Linked DNA regions of Homo sapiens. The protein of the gene in region 1 interacts with the protein of each later gene in a pairwise test. Each region holds a gene or a part of one and is shown in the gene's direction. Other genes may lie near its edges.

Region 1 (2,962 bases):
CCTGCACCCTGGGTACCCAGTGGCCAGAGGAGTTGTGACCAGGCCCTGCCCATTCTGTCACAGTCACAACCCGGCACACCCCACGGCCGAGGCTGGAGAGTGCAGGTGCCTGGTGGACTGGCCCGGGTGGGTGCCATGCACGGCTGCAGAGCCTGCTGGGAGCACAGAGGCTGCCCACTGGGTAGCCCCTTCCTCAGCCTGCAGATGCCAGCCCTGGGGGCCCAGGGGATCATCCAGACAGGTCCAGCCAATGTCCGGGGTGTGTGTGCAGGGGGTGCTGGCATGGCACTGATTTGGACCTTTCCACACAGAGCAGACAAGGCAGCTGAGGCCCGGAGGGGAAACGGCGTCCCCACGCCTGTCCAACTGCGGGCCTCTTGGCATCCTTTTCTGTGTAGGACTCCCTGCCAGGCTGTGAACACCTCACGGGGCTTGATGTTCCTTTGAGCACTTGCCAGTGGTTTGCAGAGGCTGGGCCAGGCCCTGGATGGCCACGTCAGAAGTGCAGGACGATGTCCCGGGTGGGACGGGGCCGTGTTAGAGATGAGTCCCCGGGAGCATGAGGCACAGCCAGGAGGGTGTGGGACTGTGGGGGCAGGGAGAGGGCAGGCCGTTTATCCGAGATGCAGCACCTGTCCCAGACTGTATGTCCGGGGCCAGCGTTGTGGAGCTAACCCTCCTGCTCCCCGCCGGGGCATCCTCCCTCGGGCTCTGGTGCTGCAGGTCCCTGTGGATGCTGCTGAAACTGAGACAGAGGCTGCGGAGCCCCACGGCGCCCTTCACCAGGTAGGAGCCCGTGATCACCCAGCAGGGAGGCCCACTCCCTCCAGCAGGCGTGGGATCCCGGCTCGCAGCCACCCCTGTGCAGGCCCATGCTGGGGACTGTTGTGCTCAGGTCATGGGGGAGTCATCACAGCCTCTGGTGGGTGGCGGTACCTTTTACAGATGGAGAAACTGAGGCTTGCTTGAGCGGGGACTCCAGGGCTGAGCCTTCATGGCTGCGCCCCCAGCAGGAGAGAATGATCAATTTCCCGAAGGCCATGGCCATTGTTACTGTTGCTTTTTCTTTTTGTTTTTTGAGACAGGGTCTTGCTCTGTTGCCCAGGCTGGAGCACAGTGGTGCCATCTTGGCTCACTGCAGCCTCTGCCTCCTGGGCTCAACTGATCCTCCTGTTTCAGCTTCCCGAGTAGCTGGGACTACAGGCACGGGCCAGCACGCCTGGCTAATTTTGTTTTTTATTTTTTGGTGGAGATGGGGTCTCGCCATATTGGCCAGGCTTATCGTCACTGTGTCATCCTGATAAAGAAAGGCCGGGCAGGCACAGGCCACGCTCCTGGGGGTTCCCCCTTCCCTCCACACCTCCCAAAGTGCATTTGTGCTTTCTGTTTTTCACAAGGAATCCCCATCTCTGGGTGTTCAGGACGAGGAGTGAGGTGTGGATTTGAGGACTTGGACCCGGGTTCCTGCCCTGTTCGTGCTTGGGTCGGGGGGGTGATGGGGACTCAGTCTCTGTGGATGGTCAGGGAGGCCACCTCAGTCCTGCCAGCTCCTCCCACTCACAGGCAGGGGCTCAGGGCTGCCAGGCCACACAGGGCATTCAGGGGCTTGGGAAGGGCAGGCAGGTGTGAGCGTGAGTGTAAGCGGCCCCTCTCTGCCCCACAGCCCGCTGCCCCGGGGCAAGCGGAGGGCCATGGAGGCGCAGATGCAGTCGGAGGCGCTGTCACTTCTCAGCAACCTGGCCGACCTGGCCAACGCCGTGCACTGGCTGCCCCGGGGCGTGCTGTGGGCCGGCCGCTTCCCGCCGTGGCTAGTGGGCCTCATGGGCACCATCTCCTCAATCCTCAGCATGTACCAGGCGGCCCGGGCCGGCGGCCAGGCCGAGGCCACTACCCCCTGACACTGCCGGAAGAGCACAGGGACACAGCCAGAGCCCACGGAGGGCCCTTCCCGCAAAGCAGAAGCCGCCAGGGCAGGGGCCGGGGCTCTCATGGAGCTGCCTGTGGTGAAACCCATGGGCAGGGTGGGTGGAGGGACTGATGCGAGGTCCCCCAGGCCTCAGCCTGGAGCTCCTGAGCCGTGACAGTTTTCAGGGGCCGTGCAGGGCTTCAGCAGCACCTCCTGCCTGCCAGCTGGCGTCTTGTATCCAAATCAAGATGAGGAAGAGGGGGCCTGTCGTGCCTTGAGAAAGCTGGAACGGGAATCAATTAAACATTGTGGTGCTGGCGCCTGGCTCAGGGGTGAAGGTTATTACACTGCTGGCTCCTGGCCCCTTACCCTCCACAGGACGGACCCAAAGTTGGAAACCACACTACCCCAGCCCACCTTCAGGAATGCCCTCAGCCCGGTGGGTCCTCTCCATCTTTGAGCAAGCGTTGCCCACGGACCCCAAGTGGCCTCCAGCCATTGAGGGCTGTTCTCTACTCCCCAGAGTCCTGGGCACACAGGCCAGAGGCGCCACCTCTCATCAGGCCACCCGAGGGCGTGGCCTCATGCCACTGTGCTGCCGACGCAGGGCCACTGTGAGCATTTTAAGGGCTCCAGGCTGAGACTGGGCAACACACACTGGCATCGCTGAAGATACTTGGGGCTCCCACCTCAGCCAATGTGTGGTGGGATGGGATGAGGGCACTGCTTAGTCTGCTGGCTGAGAACAACCCTTCAGAGTCTGTGCACATGTGGCCTCTGGCAGACATTGTTGCACAGCCTGGCCCAGGAACACACAACAGCCAGTGTGTGTGCGCCCTTGGGCCTCATGTGATATCAATTGCACTGCCTTGATTTTTATCTTTTTGACCCAGGATCTCTGTCACCCAGGCTGGAGTGCAGTGGTGCGATCATAGCCTCACTGCAGCCTCAAACTCCTGGGCTCAAGGGATCCTCCTACCTCAGCCTCCTGAATAGCAGGAACTACAGGTGTTTATCACCAAATCCAGCTAATTTTTAAACTTTTTGTAGAGACAG
Region 2 (7,301 bases), on another chromosome or scaffold:
GCTACTTCCTGACTCCAGGGCTGCTGGTAGCTCACGTGGTGCTTTTATGCAAATTACAAAAAGGCTTCTTATCTTTAAGAAAAGGGAAAAGTGGCCAGGAGCAGTGGCTCACGCCTGTAATCCCAACACTTTGGGAGGCTGAGGCAGGCGGATTGCCTGAGCTCAGGAGTTCATAAACAGCCTGGGCAACACGATGAAACTCCGTCTCTACTAAAATACAAAAAAAAATTAGTCGGACATGGCGGTGTGCACCTGTAGTCCCAGCTGCTCAGAAGTCTGAGACAGGAGAATTGCTTGAATCCTGAAGGTGGAGGTCGCAGTGAGCCGAGATCGCACCACTGCACTCCAGCCTGGGCGACACAGCGAGACTCCATCTCAAAGAAAAAAAAAAAAAAGAAGGGGGAAAAGCTTTTAAAGTAGTTATGATTGCACAGTCTGAGCAACTATGACCACTGGGCCTAAGTAAAGTGCAAATTCAGGTGGGTGACCCTTCCAACTGCATCTGGAGCCACAGTCATGGCCTGTGTGTTAATGGCAGGTGGGAGGGTAACACTGATCTGTGGCCTCTAGCTTAAAAGCAGCCTAAGTGTAGTTCCATATATGAAATTTCATTCTAAGTCTGTGGCCAAAGAGCTCAAATCCCATTAGAACCCAGGCTAAACCTCCAAGAGCAGTAGGAGGCCAGAGTCATGGCTTCAGGGTTCTCCCAGAGCAGAGTGGACCAGACATAGCCATGCACATGCGAAAACTTGTGTGCATTTGCACACTTGATTTCCTTTGCATGTGCATGGCCATGCAGGCAAATGTGGCTTGATGTGGGCCAGGACTCTCTCATTGTTCCCCAGGACTCCCTTAAGAGGCCTGGAATCTCCATGGCACATTAGCATGTGTCTACAACATGAATGACACCTACTAAGTGTGGCATCGTATGCAGGTCAGTCTCAACAGCTGCATGCAGTACTCCTCCTGGCTCTCTGTGACTCCTTGGCCATGGAAAGCCCACACTTACATATGCTAAAGCCTCCATTCTTCTCTCTGCAGGGATGACATGCCAAGCTCGAAGCTCCTACATCACCAGTGAGATCCTGTGGGGTTACCGGTTCACACCTGTCCTGACCCTGGAGGACGGGTTCTACGAAGTTGACTACAACAGCTTCCATGAGACCTATGAGACCAGCACCCCATCCCTTAGTGCCAAAGAGCTGGCCGAGTTAGCCAGCAGGGCAGAGCTGCCCCTGAGTTGGTCTGTATCCAGCAAACTCAACCAACATGCAGAACTGGAGACTGAAGAGGAAGAAAAGAACCTCGAAGAGCAAACAGAAAGAAATGGTGATGTGGCAAACCTGGAGAATGAATCCAAAGTTTAGTGCCCTAGCTGGGCAAACCCTTCTCTTCTCCCCCCAACACAATCTTTCCTTGTCTCTCATTCTCTTTCTTTTTCTGTCTCTCTTGCTTTGTTCTTTATTTGTTTATATTTAATTTTTACATGACCAGAAAACAAATCTTCAAGGTGTAAAATATCTACCTGCCCTCTCTCAGTTATTCAGATTGACAAGGTAGACATGGATTTGATGAAAGTGCAAAGTGCCCTCATTTGTGGCCCAAGCCTGGTCTCCTCCCAAAATACTACACATCCAACTCCTGGAGATTTCAGTTACTTACCTGCATGTGTTGTACAATACCAGATCACTCAAAAAGGTGTGTCAAAGATTTTACCTGGGATATGACAAGCAAGGTTTCTGGTGCCTATTTATTCATTCAGTGAGACACAGAGTGGAGCCCTCAGTTTTATGGATCCCAATTCATTTCATCTACTACAGGGTGAGGTGCTTGCCCCCATGTGGGTGTGGCAGTTACAGGGCCCAGGTGAGCTGAAGACAAACCACTGTACATATATATGCCTTATGTAATTATTTTCTTTTTGTAATTAGTAATAAAACCCAGCATGTACAAAAGTACCATAGAACAGAACTGCTAAATACTGTACATAGATGTATCATTAATGTAGGTTTAGATATATAACTTTAGAAATAAGAAGCAAAAAAAAAAAGAAAGAAAGAAAGATTCCTAACATGCAGTAGGCATTTCTGTTTTGATGTCTGTGTTTTCCAGGTTATTTTGATCCAGTTGACGGCTGGCCCTTCAGTGCATGGCCTTTGTTTGTGTCTCAGACTGGCAGACGTTAGGGTACCTCACTGTTCCCACACGGATCCTTTCATTGAATCCAACAAGCCATAGGTCTGGGGGAAATTGAGAGGTCTGGTAGATGGCAAAACCCACCACCAATATGCTGATATACTGTGAAATGTTACAAAACAGATGTCTTTTTTTAAAAGATAACAAGGGCCTCACTAACTGGCCTGGAGGAGGGGGAATACCAGGAAGGAAATATTCTCTAGCCTGTCACCAAAGGTATGTTTTTACTTTTCACATGAGCTCTTGCCCTTTGTAGTACAATAATTTAGGAAACTTTTCTGCAAAACCATTGATTCTCCAGCTGTAGTTTCTCTACACTCTTACAATGAGACATGGTAAGTTAGCAGAAGATGGTTTGGGTCTAAAGCCGTGAAATTCACAAAGGCATGTAGTGAGTGGCATGCATTATAATCATCGACCTCTCACTTTGACTCTATCTGGCTTTCTGAGAATGACATCTCGCCTGTCCCTGGGGCTTATCCATCAGCATTTCTTGCATTGTGATCTTTTATTATTTTGAAATGACCAGAGTTCAGTATTCAAAGATTAGATCAACAATCTTGATGATTGTCTAAGAAATGTCTCTAGAGTATGCCACAGGCTAGAAATCAAATCCAGTGTCTGTCAATCAAAAGAAAACAAATAAAAAAATTCCAGCCTTAATTCACTTTAATCTGCAAAAAGGAAAGAAGGGAGGAAGGGAGGGAGGAAGGAAGGAAGGAAGGAAGGGTATTTGTACTGGAAATCTGAATTTTAAAATGAAAAAAATAAGGAAACAAATCTTAGATCAAACCTCCGGGGCAGGTGGAGATTTTGCACTGTTACAGATCTTTCACATTCACTTTGCATTTATAAGCTGTTTGTTCTTTAACACAGTTGCCCATCATAAATATTCATTGAATGGATCCAAGTTTATTTTCAGCTCCTACAGCTGTGCTCAGTTTGAGGCTCTGCACCATGGAGGTCAAAGAGATCAAACTAGCTGTCCCTCTTTGTTTCCCTTGCCTTCCCTGACCTGATCGCACAGGCCTTTGGTGTAGTCTGGGGACCTTGTCTACTAAAAAAGAAGTCCCAGGATAAGGAAAGTGGCTCCTAAATATAACCTCGGGGCCTCTCTTCTCCCATCTCAGAGACCTTGGATCAGGACAACTGCCTCTTGGCACTGACTTTAAGGAAAACAAAACTGTTGGCTATAGCCCTTTCCTGTTTGCCAGCATTTCCTTTTTTGCATTGAATCTCTGTTGAATCATTTCTTTATTTCGCACACTCTAAGAAGGAGGTGGTGGTCCGGGAGGAGGAAGCTCGATACACTCCCCTTGAGGCTGCGGGGAGGAGCCATGGCTTGACCTCTCTGCAGCCTAATGAAGGGCACTCTTGGCTTGGGGAGCTCCCCTGCAACCTTGCCAGGGTCGCAGGGCAGGCCATGGCAGGCACAAAACAAGATGGAATAGGGGCGGCAAAATGTCTTCTAATTTAGCTCTTGAAGACTCACTGGGCCTTTTTAATTCCATTGCTAAGGTTTAAAGGACAGCGCACACCCCCGTGTCTGGTTGGAAGAGCAAGCAGCTCAGGGCCTCATCCCTGCTTGCCTGCCCTTTAGCACAACTGAACGAAGAGCCTTGACAACACGTTGGCCACGTGCACCTGTCAGTTCTGTGTCTGTGACGGGCACCCAGATGTGAGGTCTCTCCCTGTTTCTCACTGTCTTTGTTGTCAATGTAGTTGGAGACAGAACTTGAACCAAATCTCGTTTTTGTAATGTGAGCCTCTGAATCTTTACATGGGGATGCTCCTGAAGAACCTTTTACTAGAATGTCCCTATCAAACATGTCTATTTTTCTACAGTTGTTAACACAGTTTAACAGTGTATTTTGTGTCAACTGTTAAAATTTGGAACTGAAAGTTCATTGAGACTGATTTTCTAAGCAGCGAGTAGTGAGTGAATGGTGTTTTCCATTAAGACAGCTCAACAAAATTGACCCCACAATTTCCACTCATTCTATTCCGCAATATCCAGTCCTCATTCCCTCAGTCACTCCATTAGCAAACCAAGTGCAATGAGAATTTTTTAAAAGTCTCTTTTAATACAACAGTATCCATAACTAATGAAGATCACTCTCAACTAGATCCTTTGGTCTGTTTGGTTAATGTATTTGAGTCATTTTTCCATAAAGCATGGTGGGATCCGTGAGCCAGATAAGAATTTGGAATTTAAGGGTTATGGTTTGCCACAGTTGACCCCAATTTGACAGAACAAAGTGCTCCTGGATGGAAGGGCAGGTTCAGCTGCAAGCATGACCCCCCACCACAAGGCTGCTGAGTTCCTCGGATTCTCACCTCCACCCACCCCAACGTGCTCTCCAACTGGAAGAGCACCCATTCATTTATAAATCAACTTTATGGAACCAATAAAATCATTTCTGTTTTAGCTGTCCCCTGGGTAAGCTATACTCTTTTACATTAACATAGCAAATGTCAACTTTTCTGTTCCTTCAAACATGGCCTTCCAGCCTGGTTGTTCCAGCATATATCCCCTCTATGTCCATGAGGCAGAACTCTCTCTTCCCCCACTCCGTTCTTCCATCTATCCCCATCCTTTGCTGTTTCCCTGGTTCTCCAGTTCCAATTCTATTGTTTTAGTTCAGTACCTTATGTTCCCTAACAGAAATCCAGCTGCAAATGTCAACCTATTTCTTAAGCACAATTTTCTCTTGCAGGTCTAACCAAGCTAGGGCTCTGAAATGTCTATTTTTCACTGCACTCCAATTTAAAAATTATTCATGACTTCATTTAATAGTCTAAATTTTGAATTCTCCAGAGCAACATTCTTATGCTTTCCATCCCTACATTTTCTTACATTTCAGTTTTCTTACTTTTTTCCCCTTTGCTTTTTTATTTAGATTTAAGCCAGTGTCTTTGGGATATTTAGAAACTGCTTACAAAGGTGGGAACTGGTGGACAGAGAAAGGGGGCATAAGAATGCTATTAGAAAACTACCTGAACTCACCAGAAGAATGGGAAATCATTTGATTTGCTGAGAGAATACAATTAAAATACTCATAGTAAATCATTTCCAAAACAGTTTGCTAATAGTCTGGCTACTCTTCAGTCTTTCTTTCCTTGACTTGGGTGATACTCTGTATGATTTAAAAATGTCAGGAAGGTAGTTGAAAGTTCAGTGTCCTCTATATATTGTAAACATTATCTTCAAGGATGATTTCCTTTCAATGGATGGCTTTAACATTGAAAAACATAGGTAACATATACATAATAGATGATTCATTGATATTACTTTACAATACACTAAAATAACATTATCTTGTTTCTGAACTTTATGGCCAACCGGTATCTAAGAAAATGTTAGCCTTTAATTTAAAATTGAGTAAAGCACGCCTCTTCCTAATATTTCTGCCTTTAATGTCTTGAGTGCTTTAGATGCAGAGTGTCATCTAGAAGTCAAAATTCTGTCAGAAGGCTGCTAAGAGATTTTGATAAATCACAGAATATATAATAATAACCCAACAATATTTTACCCAACATGGTGTGGTGTTTGAGAGCATTAAGAGCACTTGTACAAATTATCTTATTTCATTCTAATTCACCATGAGAGGTTGAGTATTATAATTTACATTTTATAGAGGGAAAACTAGGGTTTGGGCAAATTGGCCAAGTTTAAAGGCCAGTGAATCATAGCTCCTTGTCTCAAATCCAGGTCACAGGGCCCTAAGCTGTGGGCTATTTTTACTACAAAAAATTTCAGCAAACCAAATCTGCTAAAAAAAAAAAAATCTGGCCTGCTGCCTGTTATTGTACCACTTGTGAGCTAAGAGCAATTTTTACATTTTTTAATAATTGGGGGAAAAAAAAGAAAAGAAGAATATTTTGAGACATGTGAAAATCATCCTAAATTCAAATTTCAATGTCCACAAACAAAGTTTTATTGGAACACAGCCACAGCCATTTGTCTGTGTATTGCCTATGGCTGCTTCCACATGCACTCACAGAGCTGAGTAATTACAACAGAGACCGTGTGGCCAGCAAAGATTGAAATATTTACTATCTGGCCCTGTATAAAAAAAGTTTGCTGACCCCTGTACTGTACTGTTAAGTACTATTGGTACTATTAAGTACTAGTAATAGTACTATTAATAATAGTATGTAAGAGTACTAAGTACTATGAAATATTGTACTGTACTCTTAAGAGAGTCCTAGGCAATATAGAAGAATGACTTTTTTTCTAGCATAAATTATTGAAGTCACTCATAAGTCTGTTCAAAATAACATAACTCTTTTTTTTCGGTTGTCAAAGAGACAACTGCTTCACAAGACTTAGAGAGCCCAGTCATTCAGTTAGGGTCTCAAAGGAAGAATCCTTCCTTTTCATGCCATTCCTCCAGAGTGGCAAATAGAGTCAACAGCCAGCCAGGATCTAGCGGTCAACTCAGAAAGTGGATACAGTAAAATTACTCCTTAATGAACTACAGAGAAATGGGCATTCCCAGCCCAGCCGCTGAAATATTGCTTCAGTGGCACCCTCAGGCGTTGGATGATGTACATAGCTCAGGCTGCCAGTCTCTGCTCAGCAAAGCAGCCCAGACCTGCAGTGGTTGCCACACATCAAACCCGCCTCGCTCCTCCACATGGCTTCTCTCTTAGGCTCTCTTGGAGGAGAGTTAAATAGGTGGCCCAGATGTCTCCCTCTGTTTTCTTGCTAGTTTTCTCTAGCCTACAGTTTACAACTGATCAAGGTGATGAACGTGAACCTGGAACTAGCTCATGTTTAATTGCGCTAGTTTTTGCTCTCTCTAGCCACTAAGCTAGAAGTTTAATGTGTAATTAAAGAACTAAATGCTTCTTATGGAAAACCAAAAGGTCCTTTGAAAAGAGCTCAGGGAGACACGGAAGTATAGTAAAGGGTTGTTGGATTTCTTGCGCTTTCTGAGTCTGAAGCAAAGACAAAGATTGGTAATTACAGACATAATGGATGGAAAAAGTCCAGACCTTGGGGTTTTTAGATGAGTCAATATTAAATGGCATTCTTTGTGTCACTAAGCTGAACTCCCTTGTCTTCTAAGGAAGCATTTCTAATGCCAGAGGTAGTCAGC

Evidence for each region.
Region 2: the proteins of PEX11G (region 1) and KCNJ6 interact in binary tests that used the Homo sapiens proteins (3 or more experiments, as listed by UniProt).

The regions. Positions count from the first base shown.
Region 1 is NC_000019.10:7,476,138-7,479,099, reverse strand, and holds the end of PEX11G (peroxisomal membrane protein 11C), read left to right. Parts: exon of another isoform or gene 1-723; coding exon 724-786; exon of another isoform or gene 787-1,663; coding exon 1,664-1,898; 3' UTR 1,899-2,225; downstream 2,226-2,962. UniProt on the Homo sapiens protein: Promotes membrane protrusion and elongation on the peroxisomal surface.
Region 2 is NC_000021.9:37,619,225-37,626,525, reverse strand, and holds part of KCNJ6 (G protein-activated inward rectifier potassium channel 2), read left to right. Parts: intron 1-1,041; coding exon 1,042-1,367; 3' UTR 1,368-7,301. UniProt on the Homo sapiens protein: Inward rectifier potassium channels are characterized by a greater tendency to allow potassium to flow into the cell rather than out of it.